Homo sapiens: one gene and its partners. The protein of the gene in region 2 interacts with the protein of the main gene of each other region in a pairwise test. Each region holds a gene or a part of one and is shown on either strand. Other genes may lie near its edges. The genes, in order: FOSB, POU6F2, PADI4, IGFN1, PKN1, SMYD1 and STAC.

Region 1 (2,342 bases), on a different chromosome or scaffold from region 2:
CCCCTCCCCACCCATCCCCAGAGCTTGGGTTGACGTCAGAGAGCCAACAGTCAGCTGGGGGTGTCCATCCCCTTCCCACCCCCTGTCCCCAAAGTCACCAGCTCTCCGGCCTCGCCGGGGCACAGAAACAAGAGGCAGGACAAAACACAAGGAATCCTCCTGTCCGATGGCAGTGGCGCAGTGGCCGCAGAGGGTCAGACGGAGGAGCCAGGGAGGCCACACACCCACTTTGTCTCTTCCCCTCTCTCTCCTCCTTCTCCTCCTCCTCCTCCTCTTCCAAGTCTCTCTCCCCCATGTGTTTGTTTGTTTTGTGTGTCTAAAGAGTTCACAGAGCGAGGAGGGAGGGCGAGTTCAGGGGATCGGAAGGCTGGTCACTGCCGCTGGTGCGTTGGGCGCCGGCGAACGCGGAGACCTCCGGGCAGGTGAGGACAAACGAAGAAGTGTACGAAGGGTTAACAACGGGGAAGGGGTCGCCGAGGACTTGAACTTCACTGTGTGTAAAGAGAGAAGCCGTCAGGTTGGGGGGTGCGTCTTGGCTGGTCTGGAAGGGCAGGGGCGGTGGTGGCGGGGGCGGCAGCAGCCAGCTGAAGCCATCTTCCTTAGCCGGTGCTGAGCCCGGCAAATCTCTCACCTCCGCCAGCGGGCCCGGCCCGGGCCCCTCTTCGTAGGGGATCTTGCAGCCCGGTTTGTGGGCCACCAGCACAAACTCCAGACGTTCCTTCTCCTTTTGGAGCTCGGCGATCTCCGACTCCAGCTCTGCTTTTTCTTCCTCCAACTGATCTGTCTCCTGAGGCCAGGGAGGCCAGGTCACAGAAGAGAGAGAGGAAGGAGAAAAAAGCATGTCAGTGACCGGGAAACTCGGGTCATGGCTCCCTTGGACTTGCTGCTGGAAGGCAGCCCCGGGCTGAGAAAAAACACCTCCTGAGATGGAGTCCTGGTGGCCATGGGAGTTGGGGCAAGGGTCTTGCCTTCCAGGAACCTCAGTTTCCCCCATCTGTCCAAAGGATGGTACAGAAGGGGCCAGGTTTATGGGGAAGTTTCTGGTGTGCAGGAGGTTTGTTGAATGAATGAACAATCGTTATGTGGTTGGTTTTGTTTTGCTTTTGAGCCAGAGTCTCGCTCTGTCCCCCAGGCTGGAGTGCAATAGTGCAATCATGGCTCACTGCAGCCTGGACCTCCTCGGCTCAAGCGATCCTCCCACTAAAGCCTCCATAGTAGCTGGGACCACAGTGGTGTGCACCACCATGCCCAACTAATTTTTTTTTTTCTTGGTAGAGACAAGTCCTCCCTATGTTTCCCAGGCTGGTCTCAAACTCCTGGGCTCAAGCAATCCTCCTGCCTTGGCCTCTCAAAGTGCTGGGATCACAGGCATGAGCCACTGTTATGTGTTTTTAATGTGTTCCCTTCTATTACCCCTCCCTCTCTACCTCCCGGGGAAGAGAAAAAGTAGAGAAGGAAAGTTGACAATTCCCTTGTTCCCTCAAGGAGTAACAGCTCACCCTGCAGGCATACAGCAGGGAACTCTCAGACCAAGGGAGGACGTAGGAAGGGAGTGGGTTTTGGGGGATGCCACCAGCACCAGGAGAGCTGTGGGTGGCTAGGGCAGGAGGTGGAATAATTTCATTTCACAGGCTTTCCAGAGTGTTAAGGGTAGAAAGAGCCCGGGAGATTTGATGAGGGTTTGCAGAGATGGAGAAACTGAGGCAAAATGGGTTGTTACTTGCTGAAGACCAGATGGGAGAAATGATGGGGGCGCCCCTCTCCTCAAGGGCCCCATGTGGCCCCTTGGGATGAAATGAAGGCTAGGAGAGTAGTCCGTGGGGTCAGGAAATGGGGGGGGGACCAGGAGTTGACTTAAGTCCATGGGGGTCTGTGTTTGTGCCCTGGGCTACCCAGTCTGGCCACAGCAGTACCTAGTTCCATGTGTGGAACGTCTAGTTCTCAACCCAGGATAAGGGTACAGGTGGAGAGGGGGCAGAGAATGGGGAGAGAGCTCCCCTCAACATCCCCTCTCCCACCCCAGGGCCTGTCCTCACCGCCTGGAGTCGGTCGGTCAGCTCCCTCCGCCGGTTCCTGCATTTAGCTGCTGCTAGTTTATTTCGTTCCCGGCGCACCCTTCGCTTCTCCTCTTCCTCTGGGGTGAGCTGAGTCAGGGAGATAGAGGCCATGAGATTTGGGGATACAGCACTCCTCCACCCATCCCGAACCTCTACTTCTTTCAGAACCCCCAAGAGCCAAAAAACAAGCCTCCGGTCCTCGCTCGTGTAGCAAGGATCTTGGGGTTTCTGTAACACTGAGGCCTTAGTGGAGCCCCCCTCCATTCATAAGAAACTTCCTGCCTC
Region 2 (3,500 bases):
GAAAGAGAGACAAGACCTCGAGCAAAACAAAGCAAAAAGGCAGCAGAAAACTCACCAATATACTTGCTTCTTTAGTTTATATTTCTAAGTTATTTTGTAAGCTTACCTCATCTCACCTAGCAATTCAAATCACACACAAAAAATACAGTGAAATAATACGTTAGCACAGGAAAACTAGAATTAAAAAACAAAGTCTAAGAAAAGGCCTCACAGTGCTTGTGCTGTACACAAATTTCAATATTAAGGAAAACTTTTCTTTAAATCTTTAGAGTTTTTACAAGAGGTTAGCCAGTGCTCCGATGCTGTGAAATAGTACTTATTATTTCTGGAGTTTAATATGATGTTGACCCTGCATATTTTATGACTTTGATTTTTGATGAATAATTTAAAACTATTTTTAGAAGAAAATATTTATCTCTAACATCTAAAAACTTAGAGAAACAGGTATATTTTTAAAAGAATACATACCTGTTAAATGGTGTTTTTAGCATTGATCAGAACTCAGGCAAATTCCTGTTCAAAAGAACAAAGCACAACATTTATAGGGAGCTTAGTTTTCAGTGCAGAATTCATATACAGATTTTTTTAAAGGAAGTAGGTTTTTGTTGAGAGTAAAAGGTAAATATTGTACCAAGACAGAAGCAAGGATACCAGAAGCCGTAATTGATACTGAGGAAATATGAGAAAAGTAGATATTTCTTAATTCTTCAGTTCTTTTCCTCCAAATTGGAAGGGCAGAATGGGCAAGAATGGAGCTGGACACACAATAGTAGGGACTATGGCACGCCAAACTTGCTTCAGACACAGCTAGTTAATTTTGTAAGTCTTAAATAATACTAGAAAACAAGCCTCTTTCAACCTTTTCTCCAAAAGGTTGAGAGTTAGGACAAATGTAAAATGCTGCTTAATGGGCACAAATAAAACAAGAACATCAAACTCATTTCACTTAGTGTCAGTCCTGATGATTCATCATTATGGTCAGGGCGAACTCTGGTCTTTGGGCCGAAACAATTTTATCCATTAAAAAAAAATCCAGAATGTTCCAGCTTGAATCTTATATCCTTAGGGTTACAATATTGAATTCCGAATCGGGAAACTTAATCTTGCAGCCAGATTTGACAAGATGCTGGTTGAATGGTGGGCAGAAGTGATGATTGTGGGATGAAATGCCCTAGGTCAGAATTTGAGAAAAATAAGAGATTTTGTGAAAGTTTGGCTGTGATATAAGAATGCCAAGTTTGAAAATTTCTCTCTGTTCATATCAGCAGATGGTGTTCCAGGGTCTTAAAAGTAAATCTCTGCTGTATTCATTTTCTCTGTTTCAATATTTCTTGAACAAAGTGAGTCTTTACACATTCTTAGGTGCATTTCTTGGTGTATTTCTAGAACTGCTAATACAAGAGGTGTTTGTAGTAATATTCAGAAGGTTTCTGGGAACGAAGGCTAATATGGCTCAAATCCCAAACAGTCCTACATTGTTCCTAGGTAATATATTAATCCTCAATTCAAGAACTAAAGTTGTGATTTCTTTTCTGAAAACTTTTTTCATTTGTAAACAAACCTATATCTAGATTCCTAGTGACGAAAGAATTTAGAGTAAAAATGAAAATGAGGCAGTCTAGCAATCTAATTCATTAACACACACGCACACTCACAGACATACTTTAAACATTTTGGGAATACTTGACTATTTAACCTCTAATAATCTAAAAATATTTTGTCTCTGTTTTCAATCTTAGTACCTGAAAAAATTATGACAGATGTTTACTTAAAATACTCCTCTCAACTTGGTTGAGAATGGAAAAATACTTTGCAACTTTTTTGTTTTTGTTTTGAGATGAGGTCTTGCCATGTTGCTGAGGCTGGCTGTGAACTCCTGGGCTCAAGAGACGCTCCCACCTCAGCCTCCTGAGTAGTACTTTGCAGCTGTTAAACATCAAGTTTGTGGTAAGAATTCGAGTACATAGTCGATTGGAAAACTGCAAACGTATGAATATTGTGGTTATTTCCTTCCAAAAACAGGGGGGCTCTTTGGTTTGCAATGTACTGCCATTTGTACTAGTGCTGAAACCTATCAACTGCAATTGCTTTCTCCCTTTCTACCTTTATTTATCAAATAGAATTTAAACAGCTAGTTCAGGCAGAGAGTGGAACATCTGAGTAAAAGTGACAGTACATGAACGCAATTCTTATATGCACGTGATTGAAGTGAGTTAATTACATGGTAGACTCCTATGAGTATTTTTGAATTTTTTACTAAAAAATTATAACAGTAATTTCTGCATATGGCAAACCATTGCAATAGCACAGAATAATATAAAGTGGAAAGTAAAGTATCCTGATTCCACTCGCCACAAATAACCACTGTTAACTATTTCTTATATATCCTTCCAGAGATTTTCTGTGCATGTATATGCAATCCTTACACAACCCAAGTAGAACTATACTATACATAGAGTTCTGCAACTTACTTTTACATATAAAAAATATTTTGAACCTCTTCTCATGTGACTATGAATAGATCTGCATCCTTCTCTGTAGTACTCCCTTTTATGGATATACAGTGATTTATTTAACCAGTTCTCTCTTGATCTAGCTTTTAAAAATAAGTTAGTCTCTGCAATCAGTCTAACAAGTAGAGAAGTTTCATTTCTCTTAACATAAAAGATTTCAGAATTTTCCAAATAGGATTTGTTTGAGCAGAAGAACTCATAAATAGTGTCTCCTGAGAGAAGGTTAAGTGTAATGTTAAAAGTGAAGAGTAGCTTTATGCCACAAGAAAAGATACTTATCATCTATATATTGAATACTCAAACCAATTAAAATAGCAATAAAGATCACAATATTTTATTTAGTAACAAAGAGGTAAGAATGACAGAGAATGGCGTAAAGAGCTGGTTCTCAGTCAGACACACTGTGACTTGAAAACCTTTATGTTTGCTCCAAGCCACCAAACTCAACTGAACAAAATGCTTGTTATTTTCTTTCATGAGCCTCAATGCTGTTTATTAAGATAATTGACATAGATGTATGTTTCCAATGCATGATTCAGTTAGTGTATCTAGATTAGTGAAAAAGAGACCAGAAGAAATTCATGGTAATTAATGTCAGTTAAATTTCTGTTTTCTGTATTTCATATTGTCAGACCAATCCTTCAACCCTGATTCATAAGTTAAATAATGCAGTCACAAGCAGGGCTAAATAAAAACATGTAATGAGACTTAGCTCTTGAATTCTACTAATTTAGGGTTCTGAGAAGGTAGACAAAGTGTACATTATTGAAATATTCCAGAGAATGTAAAAAGTTATGTTTTACGTTTCTTTTAGGATATGTCTCTGCTCGTTCTCTTTAATTACGTCACCTCACATATACTAAGAAGACAGTAACGTAGGTGGTAATGAAATCTTATATTTGAATAAAAGATGGGAGTGTGAGCTGACCATGCCATCTTTCCCTACACAGACTTCCAGAATTGAGCCTATGGAACTGTCCATTGGGT
Region 3 (2,154 bases), on a different chromosome or scaffold from region 2:
AGACAGGGTCTTACTCTTCACCCAGGCTAGAGTTCAGTGGTGCCATCTCAGCTCACTGCAGTGTCCACCTCCTGGGCTCAAGCAATCATCCTGCCTCAGCAGATGCCACCACGCCTGGCTAATTTTTGTGTTTTTTGTAGAGACAGAGTTTCTCCATGTTGCTCAGGCTGGTCTTGAACTCCTGGACTCAAGCAATCCTCCCACCTAAGCCTCCCAAAGTGCTGGGATTACAGGTATGAGCCACCCCTCCTGGCTGATTTCGTTCTTTCTGATGCTGCCCATGCTCTTAACACTACGTTCTCCTCCCCTACCTGTCACCTTCTGGTAAACTCTTTCTATTACTCAGGGCCCAGCTCAGATGGCAGCCCCTCTGTGAAACTGCCCATGAATCCCTGAGCTCTGGCAGTCACTCCTGCTCTGTGTTCCCATAACTCCCAGCACTGCGCCTTGCACGTCGTAGGCACTCAATAAACATCTGTTGACTAGACAGATAAATGACTGCCTCTGTTATGGCACTTTCCATATGTAAATAATGTATGTAAATGACTCTGCTTCCTCCATTAGATTGGCAGGTGGCCTGGTGAGGTGGGAAGGTGGGATTTTGGCTGTAGGCCTATGTGGGTTTGAATCCTAACTCTGCTATTCAATAGCTGTGTGGCCTTAGGCAAGTCATATCACCCCTCTGAGCCTCATCAGCAAAATGAGCCCAACACATATCTCCGTTGCAATGACAATTAGGTAAGAACATGTAGGCACAGCACTGTGCTGGCACACAGTAGATGCACAGCCATTTTCCATGGGTCATGAGTCCTCAAGGGGGCCACCGCCTAGACACAGCCCATGCGTGCTAAGTGCCTCGTACTGTTCATCACTCCCTCTTCCCCGCCTCCCACAGCCAGCTCCTGGGAGAGAGTCTGGTCTCATGCTCAGACTCCCTCTGGGGACCTTGAACAGTGAAGGCACACAGTCAGCCCTCAGCGTTGCTGACTACCATAGCCGCGGGCGTCCACTTTCATTCCCGCACTGGGAAGCCTGGCTTGGCCAAACTGGAGGGAAACAAAACGCTTGGGGTCAATACTTTAATTCCTTTTGGCCAAGGAACCCTTTATTCTACACACAATCTTTTGCAGAATGTCAATGCAGAAACAGAAAATCTGAACCACTGGATTTGAGGCACCACCCCGGAGCCCCAGGTGGGGCTGGCACTGCCTAGGCTGAGTGGGAACCCAGTTTGAAAACCACGGTGGTAGGGCCTGCTGGCTCCTCCCTGAACTGTAACCCCCAGCTCCAGAAGAAGGGGGTGGCTGGGGTTCCCCAGTAGGACCGGGTGAAGTCTCTGCCTCGGTCTCGGGTATGCTCTGAAGAGAGGGAGGAATGGGGCCAAGGAATGGCAAAAACACAATGGATGATATCAAGACAGCACTTAGGGGCCACGGTGAACGCTCAAGACAAAGGTGGGACCACCCACAAGTGCAGCCTCCAGAAGGTGAATCCCACTCAGCCTAGGCAGTGCCAGCCCCACCTCCTCACAGAGGCCTTCCCGGACCCTCCAGTCTGAGGTGGTGCCCCCACGTGTGTCCCTGTTATGGTGCATAAGGTGACTTGAGGGTGTCGTGTTTGTTGGTTGATTCCCTATCCATCCCTCCATCCCCTGCATCACCCCGGAGCCCCAGGGAAGGTGCTACGTGGGAAGGCAGCATGGTAGTTACGGCATGGGGTTTGAAGCCAGAGCCCTGGCAGAAGCGACGATAGACTCTGACTTCTGGAATTGTTGTGAGATACCAGAAGGTGCTCTGGAAGTGGTACAGGGCCATGCAAGCCTGTATAGAGCACCCTTGGCATAAGTGACTCCATCTTAGAAAAAGACTCCATCTTACATTTCAAAAGGCACCATGCTAACAGGAACCAGATGTTTGCCTAATCAACAGAGACTGCACCCAACCAGATAGGGACATAAGCAGGCATACTCTATTACTATCAGTCCTCACCAGAGGACTCTGGCTATAAAAAGAGCAGGTCTTCACTAGCTCAAGATGACTGTCTTTTTTTTTTTTTTTCCCGAGACAAAGTCTCACTCTGTTACCCAGGCTGGAGTGCAATAGCATGATCTTGGCTCACTGCAACCTCCGTCTCCCAGGTTCAAGTGATTCTCCT
Region 4 (3,500 bases), on a different chromosome or scaffold from region 2:
AAACCAGGTACCTCCCCCCCGCAATCTGGTGACAATGATAATGATAGCAAAAATCAAGGCACTAAGCTAAGTACTTTAATTACATTCTCTCATTTATCCTCCCAATAACCCTACAAGGTAGGCATGACTATAATTCCCATTTTACAGATGAAGACACCAAGATACAGAGGCCCTAACCCTTCCAAAGCTCCAGAGTTTAGTAAGTATCAGAACCAGGTTGCAAAGGCAGGACACCAACCTGGGATCCCAGGGCCTTAGCCAGATACCCCACTGGGGACTAGATGGAGACAGGCCCCTTGATCATACTTGGTTTCCTAAGTTCTGCCTCCAAGCCCACCTCCAGGTGTGAGGCACCTATGGTCCAGGTGTGTGGGGTGGGCATGGAGTGAGGGGTGGGAATGGGGTGAGGCACCTGTGCCATCTTGTCCTCCTGTTCCTTCTTCATCTCCTGCAGCCTGCGCAACATGCCACGGTAGTCGACGATGCCATACTTCAAGCAGATCTTCTCGTAGTCCTTCCTGTCTGCTGTCATCAGCAGCTGCCATATCTGCTCAAGGTCCATCTTTTTCTTGGGGGCTGGTGGGGCCCTGGGGAGCAAGGCTAGCAGGTCAGAGGCCAGAGGAATCCCTGCTCCTCTGTTGGCCACCTGGCTCTGGTGTCCCAAGTAGTTCTGGGAAGCTGCTCTATCTGCACTCGAGGAAACGCAGAGCCTGGAATCTCTGGGACTGACCACTGTTGAGGCCAGAAGGATTCAGAGATGGGTGGGGCGAGCCTCAGCCTCACCCCACAACTTTCAGGAGAAATGCTCCTGACAACTTGTATTGTAGATTTCTAAGTAGGATGTCTGGGGAAAGTGGGTGTTGCATTGTTCTGTTGCTTAAAAAAAAAAAGTACATCATTGTTCTGGTGGACCACCACATTTTGCAAATGAGGAAATCAGAGGAGAGATGATTAACTCAAGGATATAGAGCTTTGAAATGGCAGAGCTGGAGCTCTGTCCCATTCCCATCCAGTTCAGTCCCCTTCCCATCCTCCCATCTGCTACTGGCAGTCTAGCTCCCTGCTGTGTTGGGTAGAGGTGGGGCTCAAGCCCAGCTTACTTATGGAAATAGCAGGGGGTGAATACTATGGGAGCCTCCAAAATCCCTCATGGACAGGCCCAAACCCACCTCTTTTTCAGCAACTTCCGGAAGTCCATCAGCTCCTTCCTGAGGTCTGAAAAAGGAGCAGGAATGAGGCCTCAGTCCCAGGTGGGATGACTGAGGGTTGATGCAGAGCTTTTCTGTGTTGTCCATGCTGACAACTGAGCCTTTGGAAGGGGCTCTCTTGAAGACTGGTGGTGATCCACAAGGTGTTCATGGTAGCTCAACCAGGCAGGGAACACCAGGAAAGGAGTAGCCTATCCCCCACAGGCCCCCAAGGAGGTTTCTGACAAATCTGCCTACCTTCCTGCGGTTCCCTGTGCCTCTTCCGATTCTTCCGAAAGCCAACTGCAACATCCAGGGAGGAGAGGAAGGAGTCGATGTGGACAAGCAGGGAGAGAAGCAAGACATGTTGATGGTCTTCCTGAGAAACTGATGGAGTCCCAGAGCCCTGCTCTCCCCACTGTCCTCTAAGGCGTGGACGATCCCAGCAAGAGGGATGGAGCAGGGTGGAGGGTCTGTCCATCATAAGCCTTTTTACCCTAGAGCCTTACCATGACCAAGGGGACCAACCTAAGCATCATCTCATGCAGGGGAGGCCCAGTCATGTGTCCGCAGGGGCCAGGGAGGTGGCATAAATGCGTGAAGCAGACACTGGCAACCACAACAAACTCAAGAGTATCTAAAGGGGCAGCTGCTCTTTCACTCCACCTGGGAGCTGCCATTTCAGGGTATAGGCCCAATATTGCCAAATAGGTCAGACATTGCTGTTTGGCTAATCCTGCAGCCATTTGTATTCTTCATCATCTGCTTCCACTAGAGAGGCTGAAAAAGCTAAACACTCACCTTCCCCAGCTTCCCTTGCAACTAGCAGTGCTCATGTGACACTGTCCTGACCAATGAGCTCCAGGAATTTCTGAGAAAGCCTTTGCTTCCTCTATAAAAAGGGTGGATGGACTGGTCGTGATGGTTCATGCCTGTAATCCCAGCATTTTGGGAGGCCGAGGGGGGAGGATAGCTTGAGCCCAGGAGTTCCAGACCAGCCTGGGCAACACAGGGAGACCCCGCCTCTACAAAAAAAATAAAAAAATTAGCTGGGTGTGATGACACATGCATGTAGTCCCAGCTACTTGGGAGGCTGAGGTGGGAGGATCACTTGGGCCTGGGAGGTCAAGGCTGCAGTGAGCCATAATCACACCACTGCACTCCAGCCTGGGCAACAGGTCTCAAAAAATAGAAAATAAAAGGCCAAGCACAGTGGCTCATGCCTGTAATCCCAGCACTTTGGGAGGCCGAGGCAGGTGGATCACCTGAGGTCAGGAGTTCGAGACCAGCCTGGCCAACGTGGTGAAACCCTGTCTCAACTAAAAATACAAAAATTAGCCAGGCATGGTGGTAAACGCGTGTAATCCCAGCTACTCAGGAGGCTGAGGCAGGAGAATTGCTTGAACCCGGGAGGCAGATGTTGCAGTGAGGTGAGATTGTGCCACTGTACTCCAGCCTACGCGATGGAGCAAGACTCCAGTCCATCTCAAAAATATAAAAATAAAAATAAGAGAGGCAGATGGACCTGGGCCACCTCTTCCACCTTCCTACCTTGAACATGGATTATGTTTGAATCTGCCACAGCCCTCTTATGGCCATGAGGTGATAAGCCAATCTGCTAAGGATGGCAGAGCAGTGGGAACGAAGGAATCAGCTCTCCGATGGCAGCCCTGAGCTGTGGTATGAGCCCTGGACGCCACTCGCAAAACTTCTTATGTGAAGGAATGAAATATCGTTATTTCTTAGGCTGCTCTTAGTAGGATTTTCTGTTAGTTGCAGGCAGATCAATTGTAAGCATAACCAATGGCGAGACTAGACCTGCTTCCTCAAGAGATATCTACCTTTTAATTACTACAGGTTGACAATTTTTAAAATTTCAAACACCACGCACACCAAAAAAAACATGTCTGAGAGAGAATTTGGCCTTTGTGTGACCTGTTTGTCAACTCTGGCATAGGCCTGTCCAAAATATCCTTTGCATGGTGGAGAAACTGAGACCCAGAGAGGAAAACGAAGCCCATTGAATGAGTTAGCAGAAGCTCTAGGACTAGAAGCCAGCTTTCAGGTCCTGCTCATTTACTGGGCCAAGAGAATATCCTTCAGAGTATCTGCCAAGGTGTGCCTTTTTAAACACATGCAGACTCAGTGTGCATGTGGATGAAGCCCGGGGCCCAGCACAAGGTGGGGCTGCAGCAGCGGCAGCAGCCTGGATGGGCCTCCCTTCCCTCCCCTCCCCTCCCTCACTAGCCACGGGGCATCTGATTCCTCTGTGGGTCTCTGCCCTGTGCACTGATGAGACAAACTCAGGGAAAA
Region 5 (3,500 bases), on a different chromosome or scaffold from region 2:
CTATATATTATCTATCAACCAATCTATTTTTCCATGCATCCGTCTCTATTATCTGTCAGTCATCTTATCCATCAATCTTATGTATGCATCATCCATCCATCTATCCATCCCTGTATATTTCTCTGTATATATATCTACCCATTCCTCTCTCTATCTCTATCTATCCCTCTCTATATCTATCTGTGCCTCTGTTTTTCTCTATATAGCTATATCTATCTATCCATCCATCTATATTATCTATCAACTAATCTATCTTTCCGTCTACCCATCTGTCTATATTATCTATCCATCTATATTATCTATCTATCATCTTATCCATCCATCCATTTATCTTATCTATGCTCATCCCTCCATCCATCCATCTCTGTATATTCCTCTATCTCTATTTATATCCACCCATTCCTGTCTCTGTCTCTATCTATCCCTCTCTGTATCTATCTGTGTCTCTCTCTCTTTTTCTCTCGATAGCTGTATCTATCTATCCATCCATCTATCCATGCATCCTTCTCTTTCTATGAATCCCTTTCTCTATCAGTCCCTCTCTCTTTCTCTATCTGTAACTACCCTTCCGTCCATGCCCCTCTCTATCTACCTGCGTCTATATCTGTCTCTTTCTGTGTCTATTTATCCATCTCTCTATATCCATATCCCTAAGCAGAGGTTCTCCCCTGGTCTGACCATCAAGCACCAGTGAAAGAAAGGGGCGGGGCCAGGCACAGTGGCTCACACCTGTAATCCCAGCACTTTGGGAGGCTGAGGCGGGCAGATCACTAAGTCAGGAGTTCGAGACTAGCCTGGTCAACATGGTGAAACCCCGTCTCTACTGAAAATAGAAAAATTAGCCGGGTGTGGTAGCAGGCGCCTGTAATCCCAGCTACGCGGGAGGCTGAGGCAGGAGAATCAGTTGAACCTGGGAGATGAAGGTTGCAGTGAGCCGAGATCGCATCATTGCACTCCAGCCTGGGCAACAACAGCGAAACTCTGTCTCAAAAAAAAAAAAAAGAAAGAAAGAAAGGGGCGTGGAGAAGAGCTGACTCCAGATGGCAGAGGTTTAAAATTGTTCTCCCATTCAGAACACAGCCCAAACCAAATGGAAAGTGATGGTGGGTGGCCTGGGGGACACATTCTAAAGCGTTTCTCCTTGCCTTCAAGGTCTCTCTGTGGCATTCTATTTTGTTTTTATGCCTATACAGAAGCATTCTTCCATAGAACTTTTCTGCAGCTCTGGCCGGGCGCTGTGGCTCACGCCTGTAATCCCAATACTTCGGGAGGCTGAGGCGGATGGATCATTTGAGGTCAGGAGTTTGAGACCAGCCTGGCCAACATGGTGAAACCCTGTCTTTACTAAAAATACAAAAATTCGGCTGGGTGCGGTGGCTCACGCCTGTCATCCCAGCACTTTGGGAGGGTAGGCAGGCAGATCACCTGAGGTCAGGAGTTCAAGACCAGCCTGGCCAACGTGGAAAAACCTAGTCTCTACTAAAAATACAAAAATCAGCCAGGTGTGGTGGCGCACGCCTGTAATCCCAGTTACTTGGGAGGCTGAGGCAGGAGAATCACTTGAACCTGGGAGGCGGAGGTTGTAGTGAGCCAAGATCGCACCACTGTACTCCAGCCTGGGCAACAGAGTGAGACTGTGTCTCAAAAAAAAAAAAAAAGAAATTAGCCGGGCTTGGTGGTGGGTGCCTGTAATCCCAGCTGCTCGGGAGACTGAGGCAGGAGAATCTCTAGAGCCTGGGAGGTGGAGGTTGTGGTGAGCCCAGATTGCGCCACTGCACTCCAGCCTGGGCAACAGAGTCTCAAAGAAAAAAGGAACTTTCTGCAGCTCTGTTGTCGATGCACCCACAGTAGCTGAGTTCTGTTGTAGATGGAAATGTTCTCTATCTGAAGTGTGACCAGTGTGACCAGGGAACCAAAGTTTTAATTTCGCTGACATTTTCACTAATTTAAATCGCCACATGTGACAACCATACCAGACACTGCAGTTCTGTGACTTCAGCACCTTCTAGAAGTTGTATTGGAGTTGGGAGAATTCAACTTGACAGGTGGCTTCCATAGATGGGTGGGCACCAGCATTGCCTGGGGGCTTGTTGAAATACTGAGTGCTTTAGGGCCGGGCACGGTGGCTCGCGCCTGTAATCCCAGCACTTTGGGAGGCCAAAGTGGGCAGATCGCTTGAGCCCAGGAGTTCAGGACCAGCCTGGCCAACATGGTGAAACTCCGTCTCTACAAAAATACAACAATTTGCCAGGCATGGGGGTGCGTGCCTGTAGTCCCAGCTACTCAGGAGGCTGAGGTGGGAGGATCTCTTGAGCCCGGGAGGTGGAGGCTGCAGTGAGCCGAGATCGGACTACTCATATGTGCATATATATATGTGTGTATATATATATATGTGTGTGTGTATATATATATATATATAGAGAGAGAGAGAGAGCATGCGCGCGCTTCCTCCACTCCATGTTTCTGGCTCAGTAGGTCAAACCTGCGTTTCTAGAAAGTTCCCAGGTGTTGCTGCTACTGCAGGTCTGGGGTCTGGGAGCACATGTGGGGAATGGGGTGTGGGATGGCGTGGCGTCCGTTTGCAGTCGCTGTCTGTCAGTCTTGTTGGGTCAGATGCTCTCCCCACCTCTAGAAAGGGACCCGGTTGTTTGCTTCTTGCTTTTCCAAGACGTCCCTTCAGGAGGGGAGCCATGGGTTGCACCGATGACCTCTTCATTGTCACCTGGTACTCGGGTTGAATCTGATGCCACGTGACCAGAACCCCACTTGGGCGCGCACACCTGTGCTCCCAGGGGCTTCCTTACCAAGCTGTCTGCCTGCAGGTGGGCAGAGGGTCCTCACATTTTGGTCCCTTCCCCCAGGTCACCTTCCGCAACCCTGTCATTGAGAGGATTCCTCGGCTCCGACGGCAGAAGAAAATTTTCTCCAAGCAGCAAGGTGAGAGGGTGCTCCAGGCTTCCTGGGGGAGAGGCCAGGGGTCCTGGGAGTGTCATGGAGGGTGACGCCTGCCCCGTCCCCCCAGGGAAGGCGTTCCAGCGTGCTAGGCAGATGAACATCGATGTCGCCACGTGGGTGCGGCTGCTCCGGAGGCTCATCCCCAATGCCACGGGCACAGGCACCTTTAGCCCTGGGGCTTCTCCAGGATCCGAGGCCCGGACCACGGGGTAAGGAAGGAGGGCCCCATGGTCCCGGCTGCCCCTTGAAGCCTGCGAGGGTCCTGGGTCCCAGACACACCCTCCTCTCGTCTGCTGCAGTGACATATCGGTGGAGAAGCTGAACCTCGGCACTGACTCGGACAGCTCACCTCAGAAGAGCTCGCGGGATCCTCCTTCCAGCCCATCGAGCCTGGTGAGGGTCCCCCCTTCTATCCCCGTAGGCCTGGCCTGGGCAGCGTCAGGGGTCCTGCTCCAGGCTCAGAGACCACTAGGAACTTCCCTGGAGCCACGCAGCATGTCTGTGGCAGAACCAGGGCCCAGATCTCTATGCTGGTTAAAACGTGT
Region 6 (4,128 bases), on a different chromosome or scaffold from region 2:
AAAACCTAGGATAATTACCTTTGGAGCAGGCATGCAACAGGATAGAGAAGATGTAACATATTGGAATATTCTAGTTAAGTTGGTTTGGTGTTGATTTATTGCTATGCTTTATATAATATATGTTAGAATATATACAATATAACATATAATATATATGTTAGAATATATAATACACACTGTTTGAAAGAATTAATTTTCATTTAATGCAGTGCTCAACTAAAAATAAAATCTTTCTCCACATTTGTGTGGAAGAGTAGGAAAGCCTGTCTTGCAGTAAGATGGATTAAAACAAGCCAGTTTTGTACAGTGACTTTTGTGGGTGACTCAGTCCCACCTCTGCAATCAAGTTTCTCATCTATGGTGGCTGAGCCTCACCAGGAGCCTAAAATGCATAAAACTTTCCTTTAATGCCTCTTTGGGCTGTCTCTGGTATAACCAAAGAAAGCACAGCTCCCTCATCTATGCAGTGACAAGTTTGGGTAAAGCATTTTTTGAAAAAAAAACTATCTCTTTTAGATTTTTTTTCAATCATTTTAAACGTCATTTATACCAATTATCCCACTTTTATTACCATTGTAAAAATAATATATGATTTTATGTAGCATTTATCTGCAATGTATATGAAGGTGTTTTTATAGTTGTTACTTCAAATGAATGACAAATTATTTATAATAACAAAAACATGGAAACAATCCAAATGGCCAGTCATCAGCAGGTAATAGAAGAAGACGTAGCCCTTAAGTACTATGTCTCTGAAGAGTGTATAATAGCACAGAAGATGTCAAAATTATTAAATGAAAAAGCATAATAGCTTGTATAATGAGTATATTACAGCCAAATGAAACCTATGTTTTAAAACAAACCGAAAATAGATACCCAACATGTTAAGAGTGGTTATCGCTGTGTGATGTCTTATCTTTCTAAATTTTCTAAAATGACAATGCCTTGCTTTTATAATGGAATGAAAGCCCATTCAACTTTAACCTTCTTGAAATGGAACTGATTGGCTAGATTGACTTTGGGGAATTGGAAGCAGCAAATGGAGATGTTCTTCACAAGGCCAGGCAGTAACTCACTGGCAGCGCCAGAATTAGTGTTGACAGTCCCTGTGTTTCTGGGTTGTTTTCACTCTGAATCCAGCTGGCTCCCTAACTGTACTCACCCCTCCCCTGACACATACACATACACACACACAGATTAATGAAATAAGACAAGCTCCCCCTGAAAAAGTCACCTCAGCCCCTTATTTTCCTCAAGTGGTGGTGAGCCATATGCCCCAGTTCACACCCTTTTCCCTGAAGGTCTTAGTGGGCAGGAAGACAAGAGAATGTGAATACTAATCAAGTTATCTGTGGGAAGCAGTGCCCTTTCCCAGGGTGGTCAGTGCAGCCAGCCAACCACAAAGCCTAGGTTATCAGACTCAAACCACATAGATGTCAAGCAGGTCACCCCAACCTTGATCTCAGAAAATATTGACAATTTAATGTAATCACCATGTAGGTTTGTTTAAAATGAAGATTTATTACTAATTTAAAAGCTTGGTAGTCTAGTGTGGCCAAGGTCGTGAGGAAGCGGGAATGTAAATTTAATAGAGCCTGTTTGGAGAGCCTATAAAACTGAAAACATCACATCCTACGGCCCAGCAATTCCTCTTCTAGTCCTGTGCCCTGGAGAACAATCGAACATATGTACAGGTAGACACGATCAAGGATTTTCATTTTATTTCATGAAAAATTAAAAACTACCAATTGTCTCTCAATAGGGGAATGGATAAATAAAATGTCATATATTTATAGGATGAAATATTTAAAATTAAGATTGATGATTCATATGGCATATGAATCTATATGGATAGCTCTATAAAGGAAATAGATCTTTGGAATTTAAAAGAAGTATCTATAGATTTAAAGTTCCTGCAAGGATAGACATCAAAAACGTGTTGTTTAGGGAAAAGAGTGAGTTCTAAAATGACATCTGAAGTATGACACCATTTCTGTAAAAAAAAAAAAAAAACCAGACAGACTACAGCCATCCATCTTGTTAAGTGCAGATATATGTATGTAATAGCACAGGAACATTCTAGAAGGAAATACATTGAAATAATAGCAGGGGTAATATCTGAGGAAAGACAGAGGGGACTGGGATTGGGTGATACTCAGATTTTTCAAGGGAAAGTGGATTCCTGGGTTATTCATAATTATAAATATACAAATAGTTCATAATTTTTAAAGTCTCAGCAATTACTTTATCTGGTAATGTATTTATAATAAAAAGAAAGCTAAAAATATAGAGCTTTCTGTCGGAAAATGTTTCCCACAGCACCACACCCACCTTTCCACTCCCAGCACACCCTCTCAGCCAAGTTGGCCAGTATTGGGAGAAAGTGCCCCCGAAGCCTTTGCTCACCTTCACCACCCTTCTAGGAGCCACAGCAAATCACACTGGCAATGATCCCTTGCAGAAAAATTTGTGCCAGAAAAATTAGCTCTCAGAAGTGCCATTTTGTTGAAAAAAGAGCACATGAATTTTATCCCTTCCCCTGATGATTTTTGAGAGCAAAGTATTTTAGAGTTTGGCCCCAGCCAAACTAACAGGAGAGAAGGCAACTCCCCACATTTCATACCTGTCAAAAACCACTGCGGAATAAGCCCGCTCAGCAAAGATGATATCTGCAGCCCAGAACTCCTTGGTGGCCTTCAGACCCCTTCCTTTGCCCTCAGCGGTGAAGACCTCCACGTTCTCCATTCTCCCTATTGTCATCTCAGAGACTGTCAGGCCAGCGCGGCAGTTATTTAACACTGAGCCAAGTCTCTTGTCATTGCTATTTCAGCACCTTCAGCATCCCAAAGAGCAAGACTATAAATGGACAAGCCACCTCCCCTTCCCTACTCGCTCTCAGCTACTGGGCCCTCACCTCCCCCTCTGCTACTTTTCCTGGAGGTGGGGATGGGACAGACAAGAGAACAAGTGAACTGGGAAGAGTTTCATTCATCACCCAGCAAAGCCGACAGAACAGAAAATGACCATGGGTTAATATGGCATAGGGCCTGAAAAGTTTTGAGAGGTTCCATTGCAAGCAGAAGCTATCTGTATGTGCTAAGTTCTGAACTGCAACAATCCTGTTCGGCTTTAGTTGGAGTAGGGAACATTTGGTCAGGAGGGTATTTTTAGCAGCCAGATGCCTCTGTCAATCAAAAGCAGACAGCTGGAATGGTCCCATAGAAACAAGGTGATATTTGCTGCTCTGGGACCCTTCAGCTGTCAGGCTTGCACTTTCTCAAGTGAGATGGGCCCTCGCCCCACCCTTTTCAGTCTCTCTCCCAAGGGTGGACTGTTTAGCAGCAGAAGCTAAACTGAGGGCTGGGCACGGTGGCTCACGCCTGTAATCCCCACCTTGGGAGGCCGAGGCACATGGATCATCTGAGGTCAGGAGTTCAAGACCAGCCTGACCAACATGGTGAAACCCCGTCTCTACCAAAAATACAAAAATTAGCTGGGCGTGGTGGCGGGCGCCTGTAATCCCAGCTACTGAGGAGGCTGAGGCAGGAGAATTGCTTGAACCTGGGAGGCAGAGGTTGCAGTGAGCCGAGATCGCGCCATTGCACTCCAGCCTGGGCGACAGAGTGGGACCCCGTCTCAACAAAAAATTAATAAATAAATAAATAAATAAATAAATAAATAATAAGAAGAAGCTAAACTGAGCCCTTGGCATATACGTAACAGTACTATTTAGGCTCCAAGGGGGCATTTTTCCTCTCCAGTATCACCTGGGGCTCTTACAGCACCCCCTACTCCACAGCATGGAATTCCCTGTTCTTAGCACTGCTGGTGATGCTGGTATGCTGGAGGCAGGCTGGATACAGACAAGGCAGGCTATAAAAATAGCAACCCCCATCTCTATCTTTCTATCAAATTTCCTTTAACATGTGTCTGCTGCCAGGAAAATACCAACGTGCTCTGTCCTTCTTCTTACTCAGGAGTGAGGACACTGGAAAGACGAATCTAAAATCCCCGTTGAACTAAATGCCACTGTTCTTGGCTATCAGGCAGCTTTTACTGAGGTTTAAAAGAAATACACTTGCAGATCTGGAGCTCTGGCTTGACTTCCATGTAAGATTTTTAGTTCCT
Region 7 (3,500 bases), on a different chromosome or scaffold from region 2:
GCTGTAGTAACGCCGAAACCCCTTTGGCTGGAGAGAGAATGAGGAAGGCAAGGGGTTAATGTCACTGGAGATGGAGAAAACCATACAAGAGCTCCCTAAATAAAACCAATTGGTTTCTCCAGGAGCACCCTCCTGTCTCCCATTAACATGCCGACTTATCCTATAATTCCACAATTTAATCCCAGCAGGGACACAGAGGCAGGGAGGAATAGTGGCAACTAGCAAGTTACACTCTATCCAGAAAACAAGGTCCTGGCCCTGGCCTCCCCAGTCGTGTCTGTCCTCCTCCTGCAGTGCACTGCAGCCTCCTTTGCATCCCAGATCCTCATTGCCTCCTGGATTACAAGTGGACTGCCACATATTATTTCACCACAGTTTGTTATTGTGGTTTGTTAAAATAATATAAATAAAAGGCCTGGGCATGGGTAAGTGGACCTCAGAGGGAGGCCTAAAAGCTCCTGTATATCTGAAGAGCTTTAGCCAGAATCATTTGCTCTGTAATCTGGATTCTATTCTCTGTTTTTCTGACCTCTCCTTCATGGTCTGTCTTGGCTTATGGGAATCACCACTGGAGAAGGAGAAGGGGAAGCAGGGGAGGCAGAGGTTTGAGAAAAGAGACATTGCAAATCAGAGTAAATAGATAAACTAAGAACCTGGACTTGACTGTACTCCATTACTGGATGGGAACTTGGTGGCCCAGTCCCTTCTAGAATTCCAGAATCCTGTCTAATGTTCCTGGAAAGTGGTGTCCCTTGTCGTTACACTGTCAGTGATGGGAGGGGGTGAAGGAGCATTCACTAACCCTGGAAGCAAGACATTATCTTTTATTGTTAAGACTTAGTATCCACTGATCTTAGGTCTTTCCCCAGGAGCCTCAAAGGACAATGGAGTTACTCTTCTAAATTTTAGGTCTAAAATTGTTGAAGACAGCTGTTGATGTCCTGTCTAATTATTCTCTAGGGTAGACATTCTTCGTCCTTTCTACAATTCTTTGGCCATCCTAGTTTCAAACACCCTCAAATGCGCTCTGGATTGCTTTTTGAAAAAAAATTTTTGAGACAGGTTCTCACTGTCACCCAAGCTAGAGTACAGTTGCGCAATAATGGCTTACTGAAACCTCTGCCTTCTGGGCTCAAGCGATCCTCTAATCTCAGCCTCCTGAGTAGCTGGAACTACAGGCACACACCACCACACTCAGCTAATTTTTAAATTTTTGTAGAGACAGGGTCATGCCATGTTGCCCAGGCTGGTCTCGAACTCCTGGGCTTAAGGGATCAACCCACCTTGGTGTCCAAAGTGTTGGGATTATAGGCGTGAGCCATTGTGCCTGGCTTGAATTGCCTCTTAATCAATATGTGGCACCAGGACTGAAGCCCATCCTCCTGAGATGGTATGATCAGCCATCTCAAGGGCCATTCAATCTCCCTTGGTTTGGGAGATTCTGTTAAAGTGGTGCAGATATTTATTACTCTCTCCTCTTTTGTGGGGGCTTAGCTCTTGTCCTCTCTTGCTACCCACTGAGCTGACCACCAAGGAAGCACTAGAGTGACCAACCATTAGTTTGCCTGGGACTTAGGGGGTTCCTGAGATGCATGACTTTCACTTTTAAAACCTGAACAGACCCAGGATGTGGGACTTTCAGTATTAAAACTGAGAAAGTGCCAACCTGGGAGAAGTTGGTCACTCTGTTAATGACCCTGACTCCCTTTCAAGGTGGGGCATTGTTGATTGGGTTGACAAAGCCCTTGTCCTTGTTTTCTGATTACGCCAATTAGGAAGCCAAGCTGGCAGCCAGTTCTGGGGTGCTTTGCTCAGGGTTTCAGGGAAGGATTTTGGAGGGGGTGATCTCACTGCAGCAGGCAAGTGCCCTAGCAGAGAGGTGTGGGCCTCACTCCTGGCACAAGCCCTTACCAGCTTGCCCATGCACCGCTGGGGTGCCAGGCCATCTGTGCACTTGTGGTGGATGCTCATCTTACAGGCTTTGCAGCGCAGTCCATGCTTAGCATTTGTTCCTGTCAGGTACATGGCAAACTTTGGTTAGGATACAACCTGCCATTTCCTGCTGATTAGTCTAAAATCACAGAAAATGAGGTTCCCCAGGTAATTCTTTCCTACAACTTTTTCATGAAGCTTTCAAAATAGAAAAAAAATATATATGGTAGATTCTTTTGCTTTCTCCTGCATTTTCTACCTAAGGTATACACTCTGGTTTATCTCCATCTTTCCTATTCACTACTCCAGGAACTCTAAGCCTCCTCCATGCCCTTTGTTCTCTCAATTCAAGCTAGTGAATTCCATTTTCTTTGCTTTTCATGTAGGTTACTCAATTCTACTTTTCTGTGTCTTACTGAGTAGTGCAAGTCCCGAAATTTGATGTATTTTCTTCTGTATTTCTATCACAGGAACTGAGCCGTTGGATAAATTCTCAGGAAAATGACTGATTAAGGGGGAAGGGCAGGTCTGTGTGAGAGTGGGGCTGACAGTCTTCTAAAGAAGGGGAGAGAGGACTCAATCAGATGCCAACCCCAGCCTGGGGAAAGAGGAAGAAGATGCGAATGATAATGAAATTGTGGCTGCGGTGAGTCACTTAGCTTCTTGGGACAGGGTGCTATCATGGAGTGAGAAGAAAGAAGGCTGAGAAGAAAAGGCAGAGAGCCATCCTGGTATCTTCATGCACAAAGGCCCAAGGCAGGAGCACTGGAGAGGAACTGGGAGGCCTAATAAGAGGGCAGGGTGTGGGGGCTTCAGGAAGATGGCAGGTGCTGCACACCGGTGTTCATTATTTCAGAAAGTGGCTGGATAAAGCTTAAGACGGATGTTAAAATGGGTGTGTTCTGCCTTCATCTAGTCACAGACAAGAGAATGCCATCTGCTCTGATATCCCAAAGTAAGATGGTAGGTTCCCAGGCAAGTCTCAAAAAGGTGCCAAAATGTATTTTTGCCACTCTTAGATGACCAAGCATCTCATGTATTAGAAAAGAGGAAGAAAGGTGAGGTAGTGGAGAGAGTATTTCTTTGCAGAGTTGTTGAGGCACTATCAGTCTTATCCCTCCTCCTTTACCATGATGAGAAGGATGGGGTGTGCTCTGTTGTCTCCTCAGTCCTGAGAGGGTTTCAAGGAGACTATTTTAACAGCTTGACCTATGTGAGTCTGTGGGACATATGGCTGTGGCCATACCCATTCTTGGAAAAAACTAAAAATAAGAGACGTGGGTGGCCAGGGGTCCTGTCAGCCTACTGAGGAGACAGCTGTGTGAACAAGGCCTGCACTCCAAAAGATTGTTAGGAAAAGGGTTGGTGAGTCCAACAAGTATGTGATTCTCATGGATCAGATATGGATTATGTAGAATGCTATGCAAGATGACAACCTGGAGAGACAACAGGATTTCAACAAAGTAAGTCTCTTTAGAGGGGAGATACAGGAATGAATATGTCCAGGTAGTATGAGACATGAAGTCAAGATACCCCACTGTACAGCACAGCCATCCACAGACCCAAAG

Evidence for each region.
Region 1: the proteins of POU6F2 (region 2) and FOSB interact in binary tests that used the Homo sapiens proteins (3 or more experiments, as listed by UniProt).
Region 3: the proteins of POU6F2 (region 2) and PADI4 interact in binary tests that used the Homo sapiens proteins (3 or more experiments, as listed by UniProt).
Region 4: the proteins of POU6F2 (region 2) and IGFN1 interact in binary tests that used the Homo sapiens proteins (3 or more experiments, as listed by UniProt).
Region 5: the proteins of POU6F2 (region 2) and PKN1 interact in binary tests that used the Homo sapiens proteins (3 or more experiments, as listed by UniProt).
Region 6: the proteins of POU6F2 (region 2) and SMYD1 interact in binary tests that used the Homo sapiens proteins (3 or more experiments, as listed by UniProt).
Region 7: the proteins of POU6F2 (region 2) and STAC interact in binary tests that used the Homo sapiens proteins (3 or more experiments, as listed by UniProt).

Annotation. Positions count from the first base shown.
Region 1 is NC_000019.10:45,470,996-45,473,337, reverse strand, and holds part of FOSB (protein FosB), read right to left. Parts: intron 2,145-2,342; coding exon 2,037-2,144; intron 788-2,036; coding exon 326-787; 3' UTR 1-325. UniProt on the Homo sapiens protein: Heterodimerizes with proteins of the JUN family to form an AP-1 transcription factor complex, thereby enhancing their DNA binding activity to gene promoters containing an AP-1 consensus sequence 5'-TGA[GC]TCA-3' and enhancing their transcriptional activity.
Region 2 is NC_000007.14:38,984,409-38,987,908, forward strand, and holds part of POU6F2 (POU domain, class 6, transcription factor 2), read left to right. Parts: intron 1-468; exon of another isoform or gene 469-513; intron 514-3,500. UniProt on the Homo sapiens protein: Probable transcription factor likely to be involved in early steps in the differentiation of amacrine and ganglion cells. Recognizes and binds to the DNA sequence 5'-ATGCAAAT-3'. Isoform 1 does not bind DNA.
Region 3 is NC_000001.11:17,360,197-17,362,350, reverse strand, and holds part of PADI4 (protein-arginine deiminase type-4), read right to left. Parts: intron 1-2,154. UniProt on the Homo sapiens protein: Catalyzes the citrullination/deimination of arginine residues of proteins such as histones, thereby playing a key role in histone code and regulation of stem cell maintenance.
Region 4 is NC_000001.11:201,197,324-201,200,823, reverse strand, and holds part of IGFN1 (immunoglobulin-like and fibronectin type III domain-containing protein 1), read right to left. Parts: intron 1,491-3,500; coding exon 1,446-1,490; intron 1,216-1,445; coding exon 1,170-1,215; intron 588-1,169; coding exon 413-587; intron 1-412.
Region 5 is NC_000019.10:14,460,806-14,464,305, forward strand, and holds part of PKN1 (serine/threonine-protein kinase N1), read left to right. Parts: intron 1-2,861; coding exon 2,862-2,937; intron 2,938-3,022; coding exon 3,023-3,164; intron 3,165-3,254; coding exon 3,255-3,348; intron 3,349-3,500. UniProt on the Homo sapiens protein: PKC-related serine/threonine-protein kinase involved in various processes such as regulation of the intermediate filaments of the actin cytoskeleton, cell migration, tumor cell invasion and transcription regulation.
Region 6 is NC_000002.12:88,066,497-88,070,624, reverse strand, and holds the start of SMYD1 (histone-lysine N-methyltransferase SMYD1), read right to left. Parts: upstream 2,801-4,128; 5' UTR 2,761-2,800; coding exon 2,624-2,760; intron 1-2,623. UniProt on the Homo sapiens protein: Methylates histone H3 at 'Lys-4' (H3K4me), seems able to perform both mono-, di-, and trimethylation. Acts as a transcriptional repressor. Essential for cardiomyocyte differentiation and cardiac morphogenesis.
Region 7 is NC_000003.12:36,481,504-36,485,003, reverse strand, and holds part of STAC (SH3 and cysteine-rich domain-containing protein), read right to left. Parts: intron 2,013-3,500; coding exon 1,912-2,012; intron 28-1,911; coding exon 1-27. UniProt on the Homo sapiens protein: Promotes expression of the ion channel CACNA1H at the cell membrane, and thereby contributes to the regulation of channel activity.